7 linked regions of the Homo sapiens genome follow. The protein of the gene in region 2 purifies or fractionates together with the protein of the main gene of each other region. This does not show direct contact. Each region holds a gene or a part of one and is shown on either strand. Other genes may lie near its edges.

Region 1 (3,500 bases), on a different chromosome or scaffold from region 2:
TAAGGTCAGGCTGCACGGCAGGGCACCCATCAGGTGCAGGTGGTCGGAAAGATACCACCCCCCAGGTAAAGCCGTGGCTCCCACCATCAGGAGAAGTCAGACTTTCAGGAAGAGAGAGCTCCCTCAACCGCCATGCTGCTGTCCCCGTCCTTCCTGCCACTGGTCACCTGGAGAGGGGATGAGGGTGAAGTAAAGGCCAGAATGAATGAAAGGCTGCACTTGGTGTGTCACCTGGGCGACAGAGCAAGACTCCATCTCAAAAAAAAAAAAATTGTTTACCTTTAAAGTTATTTCATCTTTTTAGACTGCAGTGATGTAAATACAGATTAAAGGAAGAGTAATGGTCATCATTAAAGGCCCCCAGCCTGAACTGCGCCCTTTGCTTTCAGCTCGCAGATTCACTGGTGCCCATGGAGATCAAGCCTGGCATCTCCTTGGCAACTGTCTCGGCCGTGCTGCACACCAAAGATAACAAGCACTTGCTTCAGGTAGGGGGTGCTGGGTGGGAGTGCAGGGGACCCTCTCCCCAGCAAGAAACCAGACCACCTAACAGATTATATTTGAAATAGCGCTTCATGTGAATTCTTGTTGAAGAATTATTTCCCTGGCCATGTGCCTCAGAGAGGCTGCTGTGCCCAGAGATGAGGCCGCACGTCATCCCAAGGGCTGCCACAGGCACATTCTGTTGGGGAGCGCTGCCACGCGAGGCAGGGCTGTGGGGAGACGTGCAGGGTGGCAGGTGCAGCCCTGCCCTTGGGGGCTGGAACCGGAGGGCACCTGCGTGAGGCTGTGGCTACCTGAGAGCCTGGTCCTACCAATGACCCACACACAGGTGGGTGGCACTTCAGCTCCAGGGCAGGCACTGTGTCTTAAGAATTCCTTTCAGATCTGGACTGTGTCACCTTTATGCCACATGTAGAGTTGCTCCTAGCTACCACTTAAAGTCTATTAGACCCTGTGCTGGGTCCTTGACCCGCCTTGTCTTACTGAGCCGTCAGAATTCACTGCTGTCATCATTTCGTAGGCAGCTTCTCTAACCTTGGCCAGATGGTGGCAAAGGTGGGGTTTCCCCCTTTGGTCTGACCCCACAGCCAGTGTGCCCAGCCACGGGGTCATGATGTACCTGCAGCACGACACAGTGTATTCTGGAGAATTTACTCAGCAGATACTGAAGTGAACCACCTGAAAATTTAAAAATGGATCTTGATAGAAGGCAGAGATCTTAGCGAATAAGGTGTTGGTAGGCTGGACAGTTGAGCATTAGAGCGCGTGGATCTGGGGCTCCCGGCAGCCAGGGAACCTGAACCGAGTGCCGGCTGAGGAAACCGGGCCGGGGCTCTGTGGCCTGTGAGGACAGGATAGTCTCAGGCTCTCAGTGTGGCCTGCGGTGGCCCCTGCTGCTCAGAGGAAGCTCATGAAAGCCACTCTTTCCTTCTGCTCTAGCCCCCTCCTCGGCCCGCCCAGCCCACGAGCGGGAAGAAGAGAAAGCGGGTGAGCGATGACGTACCAGACTGCAAAGTCCTGAAGCCTTTGTTGAGCGGTTCCATCCCTGTGGAGCAGTTCGTGCAGACCCTGGAGAAGGTGAGCTGGTTTCGCTGGTGCCGTGAAAACTCCACACGTGGCAGCCTTTCCCTGGCTCACTATGGCCCCCTGGCTGCAGGGAGTGGATGTTGCTGCTTGTCACTTAGTCCCCACTGTCCTGTGGCATCTGTTTGGTCTAAGGTCCTGCTGGGAGACCCAGGAGAAAGAAAGCAGAGTGAGGAGTGCCCCATCCTTCCTCCCAGCACGAGGTCACCAGAAGGCCTCTCCAGACTGAAGAAAAAGCTGCTTCCACACACACATGTGACGAGTGGGGCAGGGTAGTGAGGCCAGGACAAAGAGGGACCCGGCCCTGCCAGAGTCTTGCACTTCCACAGATGACTCCTTGCTGTCAGAGGGGAGCCAAGTCTCCAGTCGACTGTCAGGATTTGCAGGAGGCAGTCGGGGGAGGGGACACTGGCCCTTCCCCTCTGTCTCAGCAGCCCTGATGGCTGCTTCTCCCAGAGATGAGATTTCTTGACTATGATTAAAAGAAAAAAATCTAACCTTAAAGGTTGTAATTTTGGCTTCAGTCACAGGACTTCAGAGATGACTTTATTAGGATTATAGAATCTTTGATAGGAAGAAGGAATTGGCTAAAGGTAATACTGTTCATGCTGCTGCTTGCAAGAACTGCAACAAATTACAATCATTACAAGGAAGGAGATTTCTATGAACTTTCTATCCAATGTAAATATCACAGTTGCCGACTTTCAAATCTTAAAGGCTTTCCCTTTCCTAGGATTGGTTTTCTCCACCTGTCTTTGATTTTCCCGTAGGGAAAAAGGCTCTGGCTGGGTGGTTGCGGCTCTCTTCCACCCTCCCTGAAGACCTTGCAGGGCTCCTGGGCCCTGTTAATGGGCCTCAAGCTGGACTTTTAAAAACTTAAGATGAGGACCTTCTGCCTGGCCCAGCCTATGTCCTGACCCAGTGTTCCACCCCGGCTCCTCTCTGCAGAAGGAGCAAGCACCTGTCCAAGTCCCTAGGGGAGCCTGCAGCCATGAAGTACAGGTGGCCTCCCCACACCGAGGCCCTTCACCTGCTGTGTGTCTGTTTCAGGCACATGCCTCCTTTCCATGTCACGTCTGATTTGTAAGGAATTTCTGTCCTTAGCATTAGCAATAGCTGAGAAGTTTGCACTGCTGCCTTCTCTCCTTCACTCTTGAGAGGGCTCTGCCAAGTCCCACAGGGGTATCTTGGTGTCACCTGGCATTTTCCTGGGAGCTCAGACAGCTGAAACTTAGGAGGGAGCTGTCACCAGGGAACGGCATGGTGCAAGCAGCTGAGCGTCCCAGACTCCTGAACACAGTGCTTGGACGTGCCCTCAAAGAACTCACAAAAGCTTAGCCAGGTTGTGGAAATTCTGTTGTTTTGCATGAGCTTTTGCATGTTTAGGGTCTCTTTTCAAGTATAAGAAACTATCACTATCATAGGCCTATGACTAGTCTGAAGAATTGTGTTGAGACGTGTCAGTTTCTAGAAAGTTCAGTCGAGTCTGTGAAGTGTCATTTACAGATCTCACAGATGTGCAGTCTGCCCAGCCCACCTCTTTCTTTTCTTCTGGAGCAGCATGGCTTCAGTGATATTAAGGTGGAGGACACAGCCAAGGGCCATATCGTCCTGCTCCAGGAGGCTGAGACGCTCATCCAGATTGAAGAAGACTCGACCCATATCATCTGCGACAATGACGAGATGCTCAGAGTGCGACTGCGGGACCTTGTCCTCAAATTCTTACAGAAGTTCTGAGTGGGCCATCTGAGCTACTTCCCTGAAATCCTGCAGTCCCTCACTGGCTGCCCTCACAAGCCACCTGAGGAGTGGCATGAGAGGCCATTAACTGTGTCTTTGTGGTGTCCTCTGGCTTAAGGAGTGAAGAGGTGGCTCTTGAGGGAAATGGTCTGGACTTATTCCCAGCACTGTTT
Region 2 (2,315 bases):
AAAAAAAAAAAAACCTGCCTTCAGTGTTTAGTCATGTGTTTCCTCCTTTCCTATTTTTCTCTCTTCCTGAGTCTTTAGTGTTCAGTATCTGCACTGCCAGCACTCACATCATTCAGTATTTCTTTGACATTTTTCTTCAATCTAGTCTAAAATGTCACTATTGCGTTCTTCACCTCTACTCAATTCTATTAATCCATTTTTTTTACTTTTTCCAATTATCATATTTTTCCCACCTAATATTTCCTACCTTTTTCTCATATTTTATGTATGTTAGTCTTGCTCAATATTCCTAATATGTTCTCTTATTTTTCAGCATGCTTATTAACTTCTAATTCAGTATAAAATCAATCAGGTTTCTTTCAAACAATTCATCATTGCAGAGATAACTCCATGGGTTACTCAATCACAAAACCAAACCAGTCCCACAGGTGCATTCACTATCCCCCGTCTTTCCCTGACCCCCTGTACATTACTAAATGTCCACTTACAATTACACAGTATAAGGTCTGAAAACAAGATTCAGTTTTATTTGCTGCCCCAGTATCTGTAACCAGGAGTGCCACAAAATCTTGCCAGATATGTCCCACACCCACTGGGAAAGGCTCCCACCTGGCTACTTCCTCTATCAGCTGGGTCAGCTGCATTCCACAAGGTTCTCAGCCTAATGAGTTTCACTACCTGCCAGTCTCAAAACTTAGTAAAGCAAGACCATGACATTCCCCCACGGAAATCAGAGTTTGCCCCACCGTCTTGTTACTATAAAGCCTGCCTCTAACAGTCCTTGCTTCTTCACACCAATCCCGAGCGCATCCCCCATGTCATCCTGCATGGTGTGCAGCGTCCTCCTGCTCTGGGCTGTGAATCTCTATGGCTAAGAAACTGTTGATCTCATATCTCCGGTGCTATGTGTGGGGTGTTCAACCATCTTCATAACCCCAGGGTGGTAATCCCTCCCTCACCAATGGTGTGAAAAGAAGGCAAATAAAACAATGATTGAATGCTCTTTGGGCTCAGTATCATTCCTCAATGTGCCCCTATTTCTGGATTCTTCTTTGTAGGGATAGCCCCATAGACCACCTGATCACAAGACCAAACCAAATCCCCAGGGGGGCTTCCTCATCCTCTCCCTTTCCCTCATCCCCTGTACAATAAAAGGTTGACTCAGCAGCCCTGCACTGCTCAAAGCCTGTACATCCCAAGTAAAGGGCTCACCCTTGAATAACTCCTGGGAGATGACATTTGATTCCTTGGCATGTTCTGCCCAAGTGCCTTGATATACTTGGGGCCTTGGGCCATGCCAGACCCTTCATGCTAAAGATGGGATTTGTGATGAATCCCTGTTTTTGTACATCTGGGACTCTGGACCATGCTGTATCTGTTTGAACTCTAGGGAACCTCAGGTCTGAGGACTTCAGGTCAATTATTCAAGTACTCCATACTCGTCCTACAGACCCCCAGTAAAAACCCTGGACACTAAGGATCAGGTGAGCTTCCTCAGTTGGAATTACTTTGTACATATTATCATACATCCTTGCAGGGAGAATTATATGCTGTCCGTAAGTCTCCACTTGGAGAGAATAACTGTCAGATATGCCCCCCATCCAAAGGGAAAGGCCCCCACCTGGCTAGTTCCTCTATCAGCTGGATCAGCTACACTCCACAAGGTCCTCAGCCTAATAGGTTTGACTTCCTGCCAGTCTGAAAACTTAGTAAAGCCAAGTTGCCAGTCTTCGTAACTGCAAGTTTTCCTCTGTTTTCTCCACACTCTAATCTATACATCTGTTTTGTTTGCTGATTTCAGTATGTATCCTATCAATGTAACAAACCATAATAAACCACAGCATGATAGCTCTTTATTTCTGTAAGTCCTGCTAGGAAATCATCAAATCTGACGGTGGTTTGGGGGACCTGAACAAACCTCCTGTAATTAATCAGCTTTCAGTTTCTCCCCCTAGTCCCTCCTTCAACAACATAGGAGGATCCTCCCCTTCTTTCTGCTCACGGCCTTATCTAGGCTTCCCAGTGCCCCCAGGACAGCGTGGGCTATGTTTACAGCGTCATCCTTGCTGTGTGTGTGCCTCATGCATTGTGGCTCCAGCTTATCCTCAGTGATCTGTAGAGAGTGTCCACCTTGTGTCACTGTCCACTCTTCCAGGGTGGGCCCCACCCCTCCCATCTCTGCACCCCACAAACAACATGGTCACCCACGTCTTTGTGTGTGTCCTCACTGAAACTGAGCGAGAAGTCTTCAGAGACAGCCAGTGTTCCGAAGGAGAGGACGAAATTATACCCATTTCAGAAACATTGGCATACAC
Region 3 (3,500 bases), on a different chromosome or scaffold from region 2:
TCAGTGCTGAGTTCAGAAGAGACTCCTCAGTGGGCTGGGGAGTCCAGAGGAGTCATGGAGAAGTAGGGCTGGAGCTAAAATCTTAAAGGATGAACCCAAATCATCAAGGAAGAGGCGGCCTTGGGGAGGGGCAAGCCAGCTTCAGCCTATCTCCTCTAAGATCTGCCTCCATTTTCCTATCCTCAATTCCAACTTGCAATCTTAACTGGACATGGTTTGATTACTCTCAAAATGAATTTCCCCAAAATCCTGATTCTATCAGATTGCCCCATCAGCAATAAAGCGTGCCCTGCTTTCCACTGCCCTGAGAAGTCGGTCAGACTCCTCAAGTTTACTTCCAAGGTTCCCGACAACCTGGCACCACCCTTCCTGTTCTTTCCTTCCTCTCCCTATCCCATTCCCAACCTCCTACTTCCCCTGCTTAGGAGCTTAGCCATCTCCTGGGGCTCCGCTGTACCCCTCCAAGAAGCCACAGGCAACTCCTGCCCCAGGGATACTCCAAGCCCTCCCCTCCACACCTGTGGCGCCCTCCTGTGAGCTTACCGGCCTTCAATCACATGCCATCGCACACGCTCCACACCTGTGACGCCCTCCTGTGAGCTTACCGGCCTTCGATCACACGCCATCGCACACGCTCCACACCTGTGGCACACTCCTGTGAGCTTACAGGCCTTCGATCACACGCCATCGCACACGCTCCACACCTGTGGCGCCCTCCTGTGAGCTTACCGGCCTTCAATCACACGTCATCGCACACGCCCCACACCTGTGACGCCCTCCTGTGAGCTTACCGGCCTTCGATCACACGCCATCGCACACGCTCCACACCTGTGGCACACTCCTGTGAGCTTACAGGCCTTCGATCACACGTCATCGCACACGCCCCACACCTGTGACGCCCTCCTGTGAGCTTACCGGCCTTCAATCACACATCATCGCACACGCCCCACACCTGTGACGCCCTCCTGTGAGCTTACCGGCCTTCAATCACACGTCATCGCACACGCCCCACACCTGTGACGCCCTCCTGTGAGCTTACCGGCCTTCGATCACACGCCATCGCACACGCCCCACACCTGTGACGCCCTCCTGTGAGCTTACCGGCCTTCGATCACACGCCATCGCACACGCCCCACACCTGTGACGCCCTCCTGTGAGCTTACCGGCCTTCGATCACACGCCATCGCACACGCCCCACACCTGTGACGCCCTCCTGTGAGCTTACCGGCATTCGATCACACGCCATCGCACACGCCCCACACCTGTGACGCCCTCCTGTGAGCTTACCGGCCTTCGATCACACGTCATCGCACACGCCCCACACCTGTGACGCCCTCCTGTGAGCTTACCGGCCTTCGATCACACGCCATCGCACACGCCCCACACCTGTGACGCCCTCCTGTGAGCTTACCGGCCTTCGATCACACGCCATCGCACACGCCCCACACCTGTGACGCCCTCCTGTGAGCTTACCGGCCTTCGATCACACGCCATCGCACACGCCCCACACCTGTGACGCACTCCTGTGAGCTTACAGGCCTTCGATCACACGCCATCGCACACGCCCCACACCTGTGGCGCACTCCTGTGAGCTTACCGGCCTTCGATCACATGCCATCGCACACGCCCCACACCTGCGACGCCCTCCTGTGAGCTTACCGGCCTTCACATGCCATCGCACACGCTCCACACCTGTGGCACACTCCTGTGAGCTTACCGGCCTTCGATCACACGCCATCGCACACGCCCCACACCTGTGGCACACTCCTGTGAGCTTACCGGCCTTCGATCACACGCCATCGCACACGCCCCACACCTGTGGCGCCCTCCTGTGAGCTTACCGGCCTTCAATCACACGCCATCGCACACGCCCCACACCTGTGGCACACTCCTGTGAGCTCACAGGCCTTCGATCACATGCCATCGCACACGCTCCACACCTGTGGCGCCCTCCTGTGAGCTTACCGGCCTTCGATCACACGCCATCACACACGCCCCACACCTGTGACGCCCTCCTGTGAGCTTACCGGCCTTCGATCACACGCCATCGCACACGCTCCTTTACTGCTCATGGTGTTATTCTTGCCTCCAGCACAAGCCCTTGATTGATTCATAAGTCCTACGCCCTCATCCTGGTCCTCGTCCCATTCAGAGTGTGCGGCAGACCGCTGGTACACAGGACGTGCTCAGCACAACAGTTGCTTAAAACGGGCCAGGTATTATTCCGCAGGCTCCCAGAGACAGGCTCCCGGTAGCTGCTTCACTACCACTGGCTAATAAACTGACTGGGCACCCCAAGGAAGAGGCTAGAGCAGGGGTTCCCAAACCCAGTTACAGAACCACTAAGAGAGGTGTTTTGTTTTTTAAAAAATACAGATTCCTGAGTTTTACCCGAGACCTAGTGAATTAAGGCTCCAGCGCAGATACCCTGGGATCTGTATTTTAAGCTCCCCAGAGGATTCTGATGCAGGGGTATGAGAACTGGCTTTTGGAAACCACCAGACATGAGGACTGACCACAGTCGGGAGCTGTCCTCCCTCCCCTGAGCCCACAACATCGCCTGTGTACCCCAGCACCCAGCACTCCTCACTACAGTCCCCACTCAGCTAAGGGAGGAAACACCTCAGCCCTGCCCCTTCCCTTCAGCCAGAGTTAAGACCAAAAGGATACCCCTGGGCATTTTCCATCACGGGCCCCTGTCCAGACACCAGCATCCGCTTCTCATGGTACTCGGAGAAGAGCTTCATGGGGCTGTGAGAGAGGATAACTTGGTCTGCATCCACCTGTAGGGACAGCCAAGACAGGGGAGGGCAGAGGAAGACAGAACTGTTGAGGGAAATAATGAGACAGGTGGCAGGTCCTTTAGCCTAGGGAAGGAAAAAACCCGCTCAGAAAAAGAACGGGGAGGAAAGCCCTTTCTAGCACCCAGCAGCACTTCTGAAAGGCACCCAAACAGATCTGAGAAGAACCTGTCTCATTTAGTTCTTGCCACACAAGAGACCAGAAATGCCACAGATGTGGGTTCTGACCACTTGCCACCGCTACCCCGTCAGGTTCAGTTTGGATTTCCCAAGCCCCCACTTGGAAGCCATAGGGTTCATGTGTGCTCCCTGTCACTGTCGCAGAAACTGGTCTTTTACTTTCTATTTTCATTCCTGCTAAGAGTTAGCTGCTTAACATTTATACTAACCCTAACAATGCAGCCTTTACTTGGAAGGTTTTTGGAATTCTCTCTGGAAATCACAGCAAGGAACCAATTTGATTCCGTCACATTTTACATGCAACTTTGAGCAGCATCATCTAATCAATCAGCTATTTTATTTACTCTCCTGGTTCCAAAGGACTCTTTCCAAAAGCTGAATTCACCCTCAACAAACAAGAATGCATCAAAGTTGGGATATGGTGCAGGGCTGCAGGTGGCTGAGGAGGACAGCACTCCTTCAGGTGCACACATCATACCCAGGAAAGCCAAGGTGTGACGCCAGAGCCACACCTGCTAT
Region 4 (3,500 bases), on a different chromosome or scaffold from region 2:
GTGACAGCGTGGCAAGGTGGCCTCAAGAAGAGCCACCACTCTCAGGGGCAAAGAGGCCTTGGAGTGGCCTCTTCCAGCCTCTGGAAAGCTCTGTGGCCTCTGGCAGGTGAGAGCCCAGTCCTGCTTGCATACCTCCAGAGCAGGGAGCTCATTCCCTCTCACCAGGCAGCCCTGCCATACGCCTGAGAAGCTCAGACTGTGGCCAAGTTCTTCCTTTCACATCTGACCTGGAGGCCACCCAGGCCCTCCTGGTCTCACCAGCCTCGGTCCCTTCTGCACAGGCCACACTCCCTCCTGCCTCACAGCTTCAATCCACGTTCATTCCACTGCTTGGACACCGTCCCCTTTGCCTGGTTAATAATGCCCCCGTAGGTCTTGGCTAGAACAGCGCTTCCTCCAGGAATCCTTTCCTGATCCTTCTGCTGGATACACAGGCTCGCAGCTGCCTGCACTCCTTCAGAGCTCTCAGCCTATCCAGAACTAATCTGTGTCAAGTAGCATTTGTTTAAGGAATGGATTAATCTTCTGGATACACTGTTGGGGGAAGAGACCACATTCATTTCATTCACATTTGTATCCCCAGCACCTAATATGGTGCCTGGCGCACAGTGGGTGCTCAAAACGTTATTATTGAATGGTAAGAAAAGAAAAATGCAGGGCTAAAATCACAGCACCTCACTCAATACCTGACAGAGAAATGCATGCTACAGCAATAACTGATTTAACCCTCCAAACAGCCCCCCAGAGTGAGGGTTATCATTACCTCCCTTTTGCAGAGGAACCTGAAGATCAGAGAGGGTGAGTGACGTATGCAAGGTCACACAGTTAAGAGTGCAGGGTCTGGGTTTGAGGGCGGCAGCCAGCTCTAGGGCCCATGCTTGTGGCCTCCCCATGAATGAAGAAGCTGCTGCTGGGCCCAGCCAGCCTGCCCCATGCCAGCCCAACAGCTCCAGGAGGACTTCCTCCAGCCAAGCCCTTGATATGACTCCAGAAGGGGTTCCACACCCCTGCCTGCCATTCCTGCCACCTCCCACAGACACTCGGGGGAAGCGGGAAGGGGGGCAATCCATGGGCATCCTATGGGGAAGAAAGGGCCCCACGTCTGCTTCTGGCCCAAGGGAGAGGAGGGAACAGTGGCTGCCAAAGAGATACACTCACATCCTAACCCCCACAACCTGTGGCTGTGACCTTATTTGGAAAAAGGGTCCTTGCAGATGTGGTTAAGGTTCCCCACATGAGATCATCCTGGAGGATCCAGTGGGCCCTAAATCCAATGACAAGTGTCCTTATGAGACAATGAAGAGGAGAGAGACACAGAGAAGGCTGTGTGAAGACAGAGGCTGGGATTGGTGTGCTGCCGCTGTTGGGACACGGAAGAGGCAAGAGAAGCTTCTCCCTGGAGCCCCCCGGGAGAAAGTGGTCCTGCCGACACTGATTCAGGCTTCTGGCCTCCAGGACTGCAGAGAATCAACTTGTTCCAACCGAGGGGGTGGTAATTTGTCACAGCAGTGCTAGGAAACTAACTTAGGGGGCAAGATCTTCTCAGTCCCTGCCTGGACTGGGGTCTCTGTGATCCTCTGCCAGTGTCCCTCTTGGTCTCTGATATTAGCCTGCTCCGGGAGGTCCCTGAGGCACTGATGTGGAGTACAGGGGGCTCCAGGGCTCCACTGAAGAGGTCTCACCTGGTTGGAAAGGAACAGGCTCTTCCTACAGAGGAGCTGTCCTCTCCCTGGCCACAGGCTGCCCAGGCCGGGTCAGCACACATGACCGACCAGGCCCCTCACTTCTGCTGCTGCCACCCTTGCCAGAGGATGTCCCCCACACAAACCCTTTCTCCACACCCAGCCCACCAGCTCTGATCTGTTGCAATGGCAGCAACTCAGACATATGCAAGGTCACACAGTTTGGGTGTATGCAAAGTCACACAGTAGCCCCCCAACTTTTCACTTCCAAAAGCATCTGCACATCCTTCAACTCATTGGAGTCTCACAGCAACCTGTGAGAAGGACAGGGACAGGGTTATGTGCCCATTTTACAGACAAGAACGACAAAGCTCATAGAAGAAAGTGGCTTCCCAAGATCCCACGAGAACCGGTAAGGGGTGAAAGCTGAGTTCACCCCAAGCTCTGCGTCCTGGCACCATGTTGCATGGACCCACCACATTGCATCATCTCTGCGCTGAGCTCCAGACCTCACACCATGGGCACCTCAAACTTAACACAGTCCAACTAGAACCCTTCATTCTCTCCTCAGGCCAGGTGCATCTAGAGTCTTCCCCGACTGAATTGCCACCTGCAAGTCCCTGCTAGAATGCAGACCGTTTTCCATGGCCGCTCCTCCTCCCTCCCTTCCATAGCCAGGCCACACCAGGCAGAGGGAACAGTGGAAAGAAAGGCCTAGAGGGAAGACACAAAGTGGCCCAGGCAGGGAGCCCCAGGAAGCCAAACGGAGCTGGAGGCAGGTGGAGCAGCAAAACAGGAAGGTAGGCAGAGGCATCCCAGACAGGGTTGTGTCTATCCCATTAAAGGATCTGGTCCAGTCTGCAGGGCACTGGGAGTTATAGAGGCCTGGGGGCCCTAGGTAGAGTCACCATCAGATGAACCCTCCTTCCAAGGTAAGTGCAGCCTGCTGGGCCATTCCAAATGGTGAGAAAAGGAAAACAAGAGAAAAGAAGGAAAAGAGGATCATTTAAGGCAAGACTTTTGCATTTGTGGGGCAACAGGAAGGCAGGCAGTGGGGGCTGCAGGGGATGGGGATGGGACAGAAAAAAAGGGGTCAGTGGAGGTGCTGAGTCCCAAAGCCCCCCGAGAAGTGGAAACCACCAGCAGGGAGGCCAGGCCAGGGCAGAGCAAATGGATTCAGCTCAGATGGGGTGGGGCAGGGCACAGATGGGGGTCTTACCGGGGGGCTGGTATTCATCCGCCCGGTACCGTGGAGGGGTAATCCGCTCCAGGTTCCACGGGATGCTCTGGGCAAAGACAGAGGAGTCCTCCTCGATGTAGTCGACATGGGGCAACTTCAAGGCCTGCAGAAGCCAGAGAGGCCGGGGGACTCTGCTTAAGCCATTTGGACAGCAGCAAACACAGCCACAGCCTGGCCTTACCTGATCAAACCTGTCCCCACATCCCAGCCCAGCAGCCTCCCACCTTGTCCCTGCTAGTGCCCCGGAGGACAGACTAGGAGCCTGAGTTTTCTCGCTCCTTGATCAGGCTGGGAGCCCAGCACTCCCATATCCCTGCAACACGGTCTGGCATAGAGGATTCCTTTTAGGAAGGATTCTGAACTTGACATCTTGTCTGGGAGCCAGGCTGTGCCAAGGCTCTGGGCAGGATGGACATGGAGTGAAGCTCAGGCCCTGGACTCCATGCCTAAATCATGACATAACAGCACTGGCAATTCGGTTTGTCCCCTAGTCTATTCTCCAGCCTTCTCCAGCCTGCTCAGTGCAAACTGCAGCACCAGCTCCCTTGCAAAGCTTCCAGTTGGGCTCAGCCAATGGG
Region 5 (3,500 bases), on a different chromosome or scaffold from region 2:
AAAAATTAGCCGGGTACTGTGCATGCACCTGTAGTCCCACCTACACTCAGGAGGCTGAAGCAGGAAGATCCCTTGAGCCCAGGAGTTCAAGGTTGCAGTGATCTATGATAAGCTCCTGCACTCCAGCTTGGGCAGCAGAATAAGACCCTGTCTCAGATAGGTAGGTAGGTAGATAGATACATATATACATACATACATACATAGTTACATAGATCCATCTCTGTGTATGGCTGTAGGTTCTAGGGTCTAGATTAGAGTGGGGCTCCTTTAATGATCTCAGTAGAGGATCTGGTGCTTAAATACTTCTTTTTTTTGAAGCGGAGTTTTGCTTTTGTTGCCCAGGCTGGAGTGCAATGGCACGATCTCGTCTTACCTCAACCTTCACCTCCCAGGTTCAAGTGATTCTCCTGCCTCAGCCTCCCGAGTAGCTGGGATTACAGGCATGCGCCACCATGCCCAGCTAATTTTGTATTTTTAGTAGAGACGGGGTTTCTCCATGTTAGTCAGGCTGGTCTCGAACTCCCGACCTCAGGTGATCCACCCACCTCGTCCTCCCAAAGTGCTGGGATTATAGGCGCGAGCCACTGCGACCGGCCTTAAATACTTCTTAAAATGAAGATTTTGTTTCTGTTAGAAAATTGGCAACAGTGGGGAAATATGGCCTTCTCTTCTGAAATTTTAGTTACATGTTGTTTGTGGTAACAGTAACCAAAGAATCAAAACAAAGGATTATACTGAATTACTTCCTGTGCTGTTGCTTAGTAATTGATAACAGAAGTACATTGTGAAACAAGATCACTGTAGAACATTTAACTGACTTCCAGTAAATATCCTTTGGATCAGAATCTCCAGGGACCTCATCTTAGCCCTTTCTTTTTTTTTTTTTTTTTGAGACGAAGTCTCACTCTGTTGCCCAGGCTGGAGTTCAAGTTCAGTGGTGTTCAAGTGATTCTCCTGCCTCAGCCTCCTAAGTAGCTGGGACTACTGGCATGTGCCACCATGCCCGGTTAATTTTTTGTATTTTTAGTAGAGACGGGGTTTCATCGTGTTAGCCAGGATGGTCTCAATCTCCTGACCTTGTGATCTGCCCGCCTCAGGCCTCCCAAAGTTCTTTTTTTTTTTTTTTTTTTTGAGATGGAGTCTTGCTCTGTCACTCAGGCTGGAGGGCAGTGGCGTGATCTCGGCTCACTGCAACCTCCACCTCCCAGATTCAAGTGATTCTACCACCTCAGCCTCCTGAGTAGCTGGGACTACAGGTGTGTGCCACCATGCCCGGCTAATTTTTGTATTTTTAGTAGAGACAGGGTTTCACTATGTTGGCCAGGGTGGTCTTGAACTCCCGACCTCATGATCTGCCTGCCTCAGCCTCCCAAAGTGCTGGGATTACAGGCGTGAGCCACTGTCCCCGGCATGACTCTTTCATAACCACATTTCAGCCCTCTCAGTCCTCTCAAAGTCCCCTTTACTACTTGTTTCTTGTACATAATAGTTGCTTACTATTTGACCTGAATGGAATTTGTTCTAATACAGTCTTTCTTTTCAAGGGAGCCATGTGCATGTTTGTGGACCCAAGTGCTATTGATTCATTCAGTGAATATTTTTGGAAAGCTCACTATGTACTAGGAATTCTTCCATGAATTTGGGGCACATGAGTGAACAAAACAGACAAAGGAACACTATATTGCAGTGTTCCAGAAGGAACACTATATTGCACGTCTCTGTGCCCCACCTCATAACTCAAATTCTGTAGGACTCCTTAGAGCTGTATTGTTCTGTATAATAACAACTAGCTTCACGTTTAAATTAATTAGAAGTAAATTAAGTAAAAAATTCCTCAGTTACACTAGCCATATTTCAAGTACTTAGTAGTCACTATGGCTAACGGCTACTGTGTTGGACAGAGCAGATATAGAACATTTCCATCATCGCAGAAAGTTCTACTAGACAGTGCTGCCTTACAGGTTGCCAGTGGGATTAGCCCTACCCACCACTCCATCCAGTTGCTCACAGTAGTACCAATGCAATCAACTTGTTAATGGACCTTTGTACTGTTTTTACCTAATTTCCTATTTTACCCTCCCTAGACCCCCCAATCCCTGTGCCCAGAGTTCACCCCAAGATTAATTACTTGCAAGCTCTTATCCTGGACCCTGCTTTCTAGGGAGAATCCAGCTTAGACAAGCACTCCTAGTAGGCCCTCAATTTTATGAACAACCATTGATTTATAAAGGTTTTTTTAACAAGTAAGAAACAGGCCAGGCGTGGTGGCTCAGGCCTTTAATCCCAGCACTTTGGGAGGCCGAGGCGGGCGGATCACGAGGTCAGGAGATCGAGACCATCCTGGCTAACATGGTGAAACCCTGTCTCTACTAAAAATACAAAAACAAAAAAGAAATTAGCTGGGCATGGTGGCGGGCGGCTGTAGTCCCAGCTACTCGGGAGGCTGAGGCGGGAGAATGGCGTGAACCCGGGAGGTGGAGCTTGCAGTGAGCCGAGATCACGTCACTGCACTCCAGCCTGGGCAACAGAGTAAGACTCCATTTCAAAAAAAAAAAGAAGTTAGATAGAAACATTGTCACGTTAAATATACATGTCAATTGTAAGAAGCATTAAATTTCAGAAATGTTGGAACACAGGAATAAAATTCTTTCATAATCTAGATATCCTGGCCCATGACTTCTTTAAATCTTTATTTAATGCCATGTCCTTTGCTAAACAAAACAACCCCCTGGTTTTGGGTGGTTTTATATACTCTAATCAGTGATTTTGGTTTTGTTTTGTTTTGTTTTTGAGTTGGAGTTTTGCTCTTGTTGCCCAGGCTGGAGTGCAATGGCGCCATCTCGGCTCACCGCAATCTCCGCCTCCCGGGTTCAAGCAATTCTCCTGCCTCAGCCTCCCGAGTAGCTGGGATTACAGGCATGCGCCACCACCACGCCTGGCTAATTTTGTATTTTTAGAAGAGACGGGGTTTCTCCATGTTAGTCAGGCTTGTCTCGAGCTCCCAACCTCAGGTGATCCACCCACCTCGGCCTCCCAAAGTGCTGGGATTACAGGTGTGAGCCACTGCGCCCGGCCGATTTTGGGGTTTTAAGCGATGAATACCAAATGTCAGTTTAGGAAAATATTAAGTGGTCACGGGGTTAGTTTAGGTTTGATATTTTATGCTATGACTCCGGTTTTGCTCAACTATGTGACTCCCCTTAAACTAAGTCCACCTATAAGTACTTCTGAAAGCCTGGCTTTACACTGTGCTTGTTATGTCAAACTGATGAGGAGGATAGGGGAATAGGAAAACACGAAATTTGCTGCTTTAATTTATCAGCTGTAATAATGCTTCTGTGTATCCCAAGATATTATTCTTAAGTGTTCTTATTACCATGGGTTCAGTGTGTACCATAGAGGCCAATGTAGTGCCTCTGACTCCCAGTCTATGTATGACTTGTAGAAAGATACTTTTTTTTCAATCTGGTTATCTAGTAGATCAGTAAAACCCTTTGCCT
Region 6 (3,500 bases), on a different chromosome or scaffold from region 2:
CACTGTCTAGGCTCAGTGGTAGGCTCCCCAAAGTGCCCAGGGAGGCCCAGAGTGAAAAAGAAGCTCTGTCCTTACCAGTGTCTCCACCACTACAGGTACCAGGCTGCCTAGGAAGCCAGGTGGTGCCTTTAAGATCTCCATGGAGAAACGCACAGCTCGACGCAGGATCCGACGAAGAACCAGCCTAAAGGGGTTCAGAGCCCAGACATGAATCCCCAGCGGCTCATGGTCAGCAATATGGGGAGTGGGAAGGACGAGGTCCAGTGTGTGCTCCCACCTCAAAGCTCTCCCTCTCCCCATTCCTCCTACTGGCTCAACCAGACCCACCTCTCCTGTTCCCTCCCTCCTCCACCTGAGACCCCCAGCAGCCCCTGTCCTCTCTGTAGCCCTTCCAGACTCACGGGGGACCTGACATCCCAGGGAAGATGCCATCAGAGATGCAGACACTGAGTGTGCGGATGTGGTCAGCCACCACGCGGTACGCTGTGTCTGTGCGCCCCTCGTCTGCCACCCCTACTCGGCCCAAGTAAGGGGGTGCCCTGCAGCCCTGGGAAGCAGAAGAGTCAGCCAGTGGCCCTGCCTGACCTGGCCCAGGTGGGTGCTCTTTATCGCCTCTAGAGCATCTGCCCTCAGCCCTAAAGCCAACCACATCCAGAATGGCCTTGCCAGTCCAGTCCTGGGCTGAGAAGCCTCACAGATGAGCACAAGCCAGGCCCTGCCCTCACGGGGCTCATATTTGGTGCTACAAGTGAACATATCTGTGACCATTTACTGAATTTCTACTATCAGAACTGGGTGAGTACTTGAACAACATGGCCTCGAATCCCCAAAACAGCCCATTCCAGGAGGTATTAGCATGCTTGCTTTAAAGAAGAAGAAGCTGAGGCTCAGAGGAACTCAGTGACACAAGGCTACCCAGCTCTCAAGGAGCAGATCTGAGATCTCAGCCGGGCCTGTTGGACTCCAGGTGCTCTCCACTACCTGTTCTTGCCTCTCCCATCTTTTGTGGGGGTGGGCAGGGAGGGAGAGTGTAAGCTACATACACGGAAATGCTCCAAAGCAGGGAGCTTGATTCACTTACCACCAAACCTCTCTCTTCCCCAAGCTTCTTCGTCTAACAGTCATGCCATTCACTGTGTTGCTCAAGTCAATAGCCTGGGAGCCATCTTTGAATTCTTTTTCCCCTACCCGTCATGATCCATCAGTGGTTCCTTTTGCTCCTACCTCCATGACATCTCTCAAATCAATCTACTTGTCTCTACTTCCACTGCTATTATCCGAAGCATGCCCTGTGGTCCTTGCCTGGACCGATAATAGCCTCCCAACTGATTCCTAAGTTTCTGCTCTCATCTCCCTCCAGCTCATCCTCCACACAGCAACAGGAGTAGCCTTTTAAAAGTGTACATCAGGCTGGGCGCGGTGGCTCACACCTGTAATCTCAACACTTTGGGAGGCTGAGGCGGGTGGATCACCTGAGGTCAGGAGTTTGAGACCAGCCTGGCCAATCCTGGTGAAACCCCATCTGTACTAAAAATACAAAAATTAGTCAGGTGTGTTGGCGGGTGCCTGTAATCCCAGCTACTCTGGAGGCTGAGGCACGAGAATTGCTTGAGCCCCGGAGGCAGAGGTTGCAGTGAGCCGAGATCATGCCACTGCACTCCAGCCTGGACAACAGAGCAAGCAAGACTCTGTCTCAAAAAAAAAAAAGAAGGGTTCTCAGTGGGGAGTGTGGCATGATCTGATGTACACTTTTATTTATTTATTTTTTTTGAGATGAACTCTCACTCTGTTGCCCAGGTTAGAGTGCAGTAGCACGATCTCAGCTTACTGCAACCTCCACCTCCTGGGTTCAAGAGATTCTCCTGCCTCAGCCTCCCAAGTGGCTGGGACTACAGGTGTGTGCCACCATGCCTGGCTGATTTTTCTATTTTTTTAGTAGAGACAGGATTTTGCCATGTTGGCCAGGCTGGTCTCCAACTCCTGACCTCAAGCGATCCGCCCCCCTCTGCCTCCCCAAGTGCTGGGATTACAGGAGTGAGCCACCGTGCCCAGCCCTGAGAACTCTTCTCACCACTCTGAGAATCAAGGCCCCACTTTGGACTTTGAGGCCCACAAGACTGGATTCTGCCTTCTTCTCTGTGAGACTGTTCACAAAAATGGCCCTTTCCTAGGCATATGCCACTTTAAAATGGGACTTTACAGCTGTTTCCCATCAAGGGACAGAATCCATTTCTCCATCCCCTGAATCTCTGCTGGCTTTGTGACTTGCTTTGGCCCATAGAATACAGTGGAAACAACACTGTTCTGAGCCTATGTGTCTGCTCTCTGTCTTGGAACCTTGCTGAGCTGTGATGTGGACAAGCCCAGACTAGCCAGCTAGGTGATGACAGACACATGGTCCAGTCACCCCTACTGCCCCCAAACTGACAGCCAGCCAAGCCCCAGAGGAGCTGCGGCCTCTCAGCTCACCACAGATGGATGAATGAGCTCACACAAGACCAAAGAATGAGCCAGCTAAGCCCAGCCTAAACGCTAGCTCACAGACTCAGGGGGCAGATACATGGTTGTTGGTTAAGCCACAGAGCATTAGGGTGGTTATACAGCAAAAGCCAACTGACACATGTTCCTACTATATCCCATGGGATTCTCCTTTAGCTGGCTGGCCACCTTTTAGTTTTTGGCACATGTCAAGCCCTTTCTTGCGGGGCAAGGAGGGAGGGTATAAGCTACACACATGTGGAAATGCTCCAAAGCAGGGAGCTTGATTCACCTAGCTCCAAACCTCTCTCTTCCCCAAGCTTCTTCATCTCAGTAAACAGTCATGCCATTCACTGTGTTGCTCAAGCCAATAGCCTGGGAGCCATCTTTGATTTCTCTTTCCCCTCCCCATCTAATCCATCAGTACCAAGGCCCTTGGTACCTGCTGTCCCCTCTGCCTGGAAAGAACTTCCTGTAGCTGACTCCTCCTTTGGGGCTCAGCTCAAAGGTCATCTTCTTGGTGAGCCTTCCCCAAGCACCTTATCTAAGATTCCTCTGTACCCCTCCTTCTTCCTAGTTACTTTCACCCATGTTTACTGCCTGTTCACAATCTGTAAGCTATTACCTTGTTCTTTAACACATTTATTGATTGTCTATCTCTCATGCTAGCATATAATCTCCATGATCTCTTTCCTGCTTACTGCTGTGTCTTCTGTACCAAACACAAAGGATTTAACATAAAGTAAGCACTCAACACGTATTTTCTAAATAAATGAAAGAGGCAAGGAGTTAGGAGGAACATCAGGTAATAAGTAATGAATCCTAGTGTCTTGCTTGACGTCTTGGAATTCTTGGTTGGTTATTGTCCTCAGATGCTGAGAACACTCTGAGTTCTCAACAAAGATGGAATGCAATGGGGCTGAGGGCTGTGAAGAGCAGGTTAGAGGGCTTCTGGAAGGGAAGAGGCACTCACCTGCTGTATGGCGTTGAGCAGCGGGGAAAAGAGGTCAGTGTCATAGGTG
Region 7 (3,500 bases), on a different chromosome or scaffold from region 2:
AGAACTCAGAGCAACCGCTCTACTATGGGTTATTGGGTCCCTGAAGCAGGCGATGCTGTCCCTCGAGGGAGATCTTGCCACGCCTTTGTTTCTGCTCCACTCCTGACCCAGCAAGTGTCCCTTCTCCACTGTAGCCTGCAGCTCGCTCCACTGCGAGTTTGCTGAGGCCGAGGCTACAGGCTGTCAGCTTGATGCCTCCCCTGTCAGCCACAAGCTCGGGCCCTGCTGAAGTAGGAATATTCCTGCAGGAAGTCCCCAACTTTGTGTTTGAAACAGACATGCTTACAAAATCAGACTTTGATGGGCTGCTGCACGATAAGCTATATTCCCTCCTCGGACACAGCTCGCACAGTCTTCTTCATTGGGCTGGAATAAGGTAACCCCCGAGTTTTTCAGTGTGGCATCTGGGGACCTTTGATAAACAGCCCCAACTCCTCCCTTGTGCCTCTTTGTTTCCTGCTGCTGCCAGCACCGCCACCTCCGTCTCATTTGGAGTTCAATAATACCAGACTCTTAGTTCCTTAGACAGCCCACATGCTGGGAAGTTTCTGTCCTCTGCACCTGTTCATGCTGTTCCCTCTGCCCAGATGCCTTTCGCTCTCTTCCTGAGTAATGCAGACTCATCTTCAGAGCCTTAACACAGGATGTCCTTCCCCCTGGGAAGCCCTCCCTGAATACAGCCTGCACCCTCAATTGAGCCGGGGGCCTTCCCTGTAACCCCCATGGTCTGCAAATTCCTCTGGGCCAGGGTGGATCCCACAGAGTCTCATTGTCTGTTCCAAGTCTGTGTCACAGGGGCTTGGCCAAGGCCAGATTCTTGTCTGCTCATCTCCCCAGTTCCGGCATCTCCTGAAGGACTGGCGCCATGTGGCCATCAGCCCAGGCTGCGGAGGTAGATGGCATCCAGGCATCAGAGGAGGGAGCAGTGCGTCCAACAGACGTGAGCTGAGACTGCAGCTCTCGACATGTGACCTTAGCAAGTTTCTTCACTGCTCTGAGCCTCCATTTTCTTTTCTGTAAAATGGGAATTATCAGATGACAAAGTCAAAGGATTCAGTGTTGTTTGTTTAGTCATTCATTCATTCAAAAAGTGTCTATTGAGCACCTGCTATGTGTCGGAGTCTGGGGAGCACAGCAGGGCGTGGACATGCTAATGGGAGGAGGCAGACGAGAACAGGATGGGTATGAGATGGCAGGTGATCCCAGAGGCTGTAGCAGGTAAGGGGATGGGGAATGGGGGCCAGGGTGCTCTTTTGCACAGGTGGACGTGGAGGGCCTCTCTGTTGGGCCCTGAGGGTCCGAGGGAGGGCCATGTGGAAGAGGGTCCCAGGAAGGGGTGCAGGCACAAAGGCCTAAAATGGGGCCACACTGGATGCTGTTCCCGGCACGGCAGGAGACCAGACAGGAAGCAGCAGAGGACACAGCAGCAGGAGGCCAAGCGGTGGGGACACGATGCTTGGCCAGCGGCCAGATGTGGCCTGTGGGCCACCACGAGGACATGGACCTGGACTCTGAGAGAATAGAAGCCGTGGAGGGTTCTGGGCAGAGGAGTGATGAGATCTGATGTAGGGTTTAAAAAGATCTTAACAGTCATTATTGGGAAAAGGCCCAGGCTGTGGGGAACATGGAAGCTGGGAGCCCAGGGAGGAGCCTGCCATTGTTGTCCATGAAGAGACGACCTTGGACCAGGGCAGCAGAGAAGAGGTCAGGCGCCAGGTGTGTTTGGAAGGTGGAGCTAACAGGGTTTCAGCTGATGGATGGGACGTCGGGAGTGAGAAAGGGGGGTTCCAGGATCATACCAAGGGTTCTAGTCTGAGCATCTAGGAGGAGGAGGAGGAGGAGGGTTCCAGGATCATACCAAGGGTTCTAGTCTGAGCATCTGGGAGGAGGAGGAGGAGGAGGGTTCCAGGATCATACCAAGGGTTCTAGTCTGAGCATCTGGGAGGAGGAGGAGGAGGAGGGTTCCAGGATCATACCAAGGGTTCTAGTCTGAGCATCTGGGAGGAGGGAGGAGGGTTCCAGGATCATACCAAGGGTTCTAGTCTGAGCATCTGGGAGGAGGAGGAGGGTTCCAGGATCATACTAAGGGTTCTAGTCTAAGCATCTGGGAGGAGGAGGGGGAGGAGGGGGAGGAGGAGGGACTTCGTGCTGAAACAAGGAGAAGCTGCAGTGGCTCCTGCCACATGGTTGTCACCAGCATCCTTTGTTCTGTAAATACTCATCCAGCACCTCTTGCTGGCTTGGCTCTGCGAGGGCTTGAGACCCAGGGAAGAGATGAGGCTACCACAGTCTGTCCATCAGGGATCCCCCGTCTAGGGCACTGGGGCAAACTTGGGTAGGAAATGATAGGGGTTTGGAGTCTGAGGAATCCCCATTAGTCTGCAAGCTCAAAGGTCATCCCCCAGCTGACTGTGGGGTCAGCCGCCCAGAATCCACAGAGCTGGAGGGGGAGCAGCTGCCATGAGTCCTGGCTTTGTGCCCGTCGCCCAGATGGGCACTTCACATGCACCCTCTCACCAGATAGTCCTGGCAGCCCCCTCGGAAGCTATGGTAGTGCCCCCATTCTGCAGATGAGGAGCCTGAGGCCCAGAGAGATGGGGTGACTCCTTTGCACAGTTGAAAATGATACAAGCAGGATCCAAACCCAGATCTGCCTGATTCCAGTGTCCTCCCTGGATCACACAGGGTGAGGCCCCAATGTTCCGCCCCCTGGAGAAGTCAACCAAACTCCTGAAACTCACATTTCTCCCCCAGGTCCCCGGCAACTTCCACGTGTCCACACACAGTGCCACAGCCCAGCCACAGAACCCAGACATGACGCATGTCATCCACAAGCTCTCCTTTGGGGACACGCTACAGGTGAGCAGGGGACACTCGAGATGGCATGGCCGGGGGTGGGCCTTCAGGGGCTCTGTCACCCAGTGCCCTCTGCCCTCTCTGGGCACTAGGAAGAGTTACCGTTAAGGTGACATCTAAGCCAAGCCTGGAAGGGTAAGAAGGGTTTCACCAGGAACAGAACAGGGAAATGGGTCCTAGGCAGGGGGCGTCTCAAACATCACCCCTCTCCTAGAGCGCCCAGCTGGTGGTTTTCATGTGAAAGACCCTCAAGGTTACTTTCAGAAAAATGGATCAGTAAGCGTATGTGACACGGCATGTTCTGTGCCGAGATGGTCCAGGGCACAAGGGCTCGCTTGGCAGCTGAGAGGGCCCAGAGCACTTGCCTGAAATGGGAGCCGGCAGGTGGGGTGTGTGGGGTGCGAGAGACCCGTGGTAGACTGAGGAAGGTGGAGACTGAAGGTCTGGTTGGTGACTCAGAGCACCCATCTGCAATGAGGAAGATGGACCCAGGAGGCAAGACTATAGGCAGGGAGGTGAGGGAAGGGCCCAGACCGAGGCAGGTGGAGGGGAGAGGAGCAGCGGTCTCGCATTGCCACGTGCAGGGGCAAAACAGAAGGACACAGAAACTACAGTCCCAAGTTTAGTCATTAGTGGGGTGGAAA

Evidence for each region.
Region 1: the proteins of KLK2 (region 2) and INTS9 purify together in Homo sapiens (co-immunoprecipitation; one large-scale study listed by IntAct). This does not show direct contact.
Region 3: the proteins of KLK2 (region 2) and HDHD5 purify together in Homo sapiens (co-immunoprecipitation; one large-scale study listed by IntAct). This does not show direct contact.
Region 4: the proteins of KLK2 (region 2) and PCSK9 purify together in Homo sapiens (affinity purification with mass spectrometry; one large-scale study listed by BioGRID and IntAct). This does not show direct contact.
Region 5: the proteins of KLK2 (region 2) and SAMHD1 purify together in Homo sapiens (co-immunoprecipitation; one large-scale study listed by IntAct). This does not show direct contact.
Region 6: the proteins of KLK2 (region 2) and AARS2 purify together in Homo sapiens (co-immunoprecipitation; one large-scale study listed by IntAct). This does not show direct contact.
Region 7: the proteins of KLK2 (region 2) and ERGIC1 purify together in Homo sapiens (affinity purification with mass spectrometry; one large-scale study listed by BioGRID and IntAct). This does not show direct contact.

What each region holds. Positions count from the first base shown.
Region 1 is NC_000008.11:28,767,970-28,771,469, reverse strand, and holds part of INTS9 (integrator complex subunit 9), read left to right. Parts: intron 1-389; coding exon 390-488; intron 489-1,443; coding exon 1,444-1,581; intron 1,582-1,722; coding exon of another isoform or gene 1,723-1,863; exon of another isoform or gene 1,864-3,093; coding exon of another isoform or gene 3,094-3,147; coding exon 3,148-3,324; 3' UTR 3,325-3,500. UniProt on the Homo sapiens protein: Component of the integrator complex, a multiprotein complex that terminates RNA polymerase II (Pol II) transcription in the promoter-proximal region of genes.
Region 2 is NC_000019.10:50,878,753-50,881,067, reverse strand, and holds the end of KLK2 (kallikrein-2 isoform 1 preproprotein), read right to left. Parts: 3' UTR 501-2,315; downstream 1-500. UniProt on the Homo sapiens protein: Glandular kallikreins cleave Met-Lys and Arg-Ser bonds in kininogen to release Lys-bradykinin.
Region 3 is NC_000022.11:17,145,778-17,149,277, forward strand, and holds part of HDHD5 (haloacid dehalogenase-like hydrolase domain-containing 5 isoform 2 precursor), read right to left. Parts: intron 2,784-3,500; coding exon 2,671-2,783; intron 1-2,670.
Region 4 is NC_000001.11:55,046,048-55,049,547, reverse strand, and holds part of PCSK9 (proprotein convertase subtilisin/kexin type 9 isoform 1 preproprotein), read right to left. Parts: intron 3,026-3,500; coding exon 2,902-3,025; intron 1-2,901.
Region 5 is NC_000020.11:36,941,709-36,945,208, reverse strand, and holds part of SAMHD1 (deoxynucleoside triphosphate triphosphohydrolase SAMHD1), read left to right. Parts: intron 1-3,500.
Region 6 is NC_000006.12:44,306,848-44,310,347, forward strand, and holds part of AARS2 (alanine--tRNA ligase, mitochondrial), read right to left. Parts: coding exon 3,452-3,500; intron 595-3,451; exon of another isoform or gene 548-594; coding exon 402-547; exon of another isoform or gene 387-401; intron 229-386; exon of another isoform or gene 185-228; coding exon 76-184; intron 1-75. UniProt on the Homo sapiens protein: Catalyzes the attachment of alanine to tRNA(Ala) in a two-step reaction: alanine is first activated by ATP to form Ala-AMP and then transferred to the acceptor end of tRNA(Ala). Also edits incorrectly charged tRNA(Ala) via its editing domain.
Region 7 is NC_000005.10:172,921,251-172,924,750, forward strand, and holds part of ERGIC1 (endoplasmic reticulum-Golgi intermediate compartment protein 1), read left to right. Parts: exon of another isoform or gene 1-276; coding exon of another isoform or gene 277-375; exon of another isoform or gene 376-837; coding exon of another isoform or gene 838-853; exon of another isoform or gene 854-1,052; intron 1,053-2,754; coding exon 2,755-2,859; intron 2,860-3,500. UniProt on the Homo sapiens protein: Possible role in transport between endoplasmic reticulum and Golgi.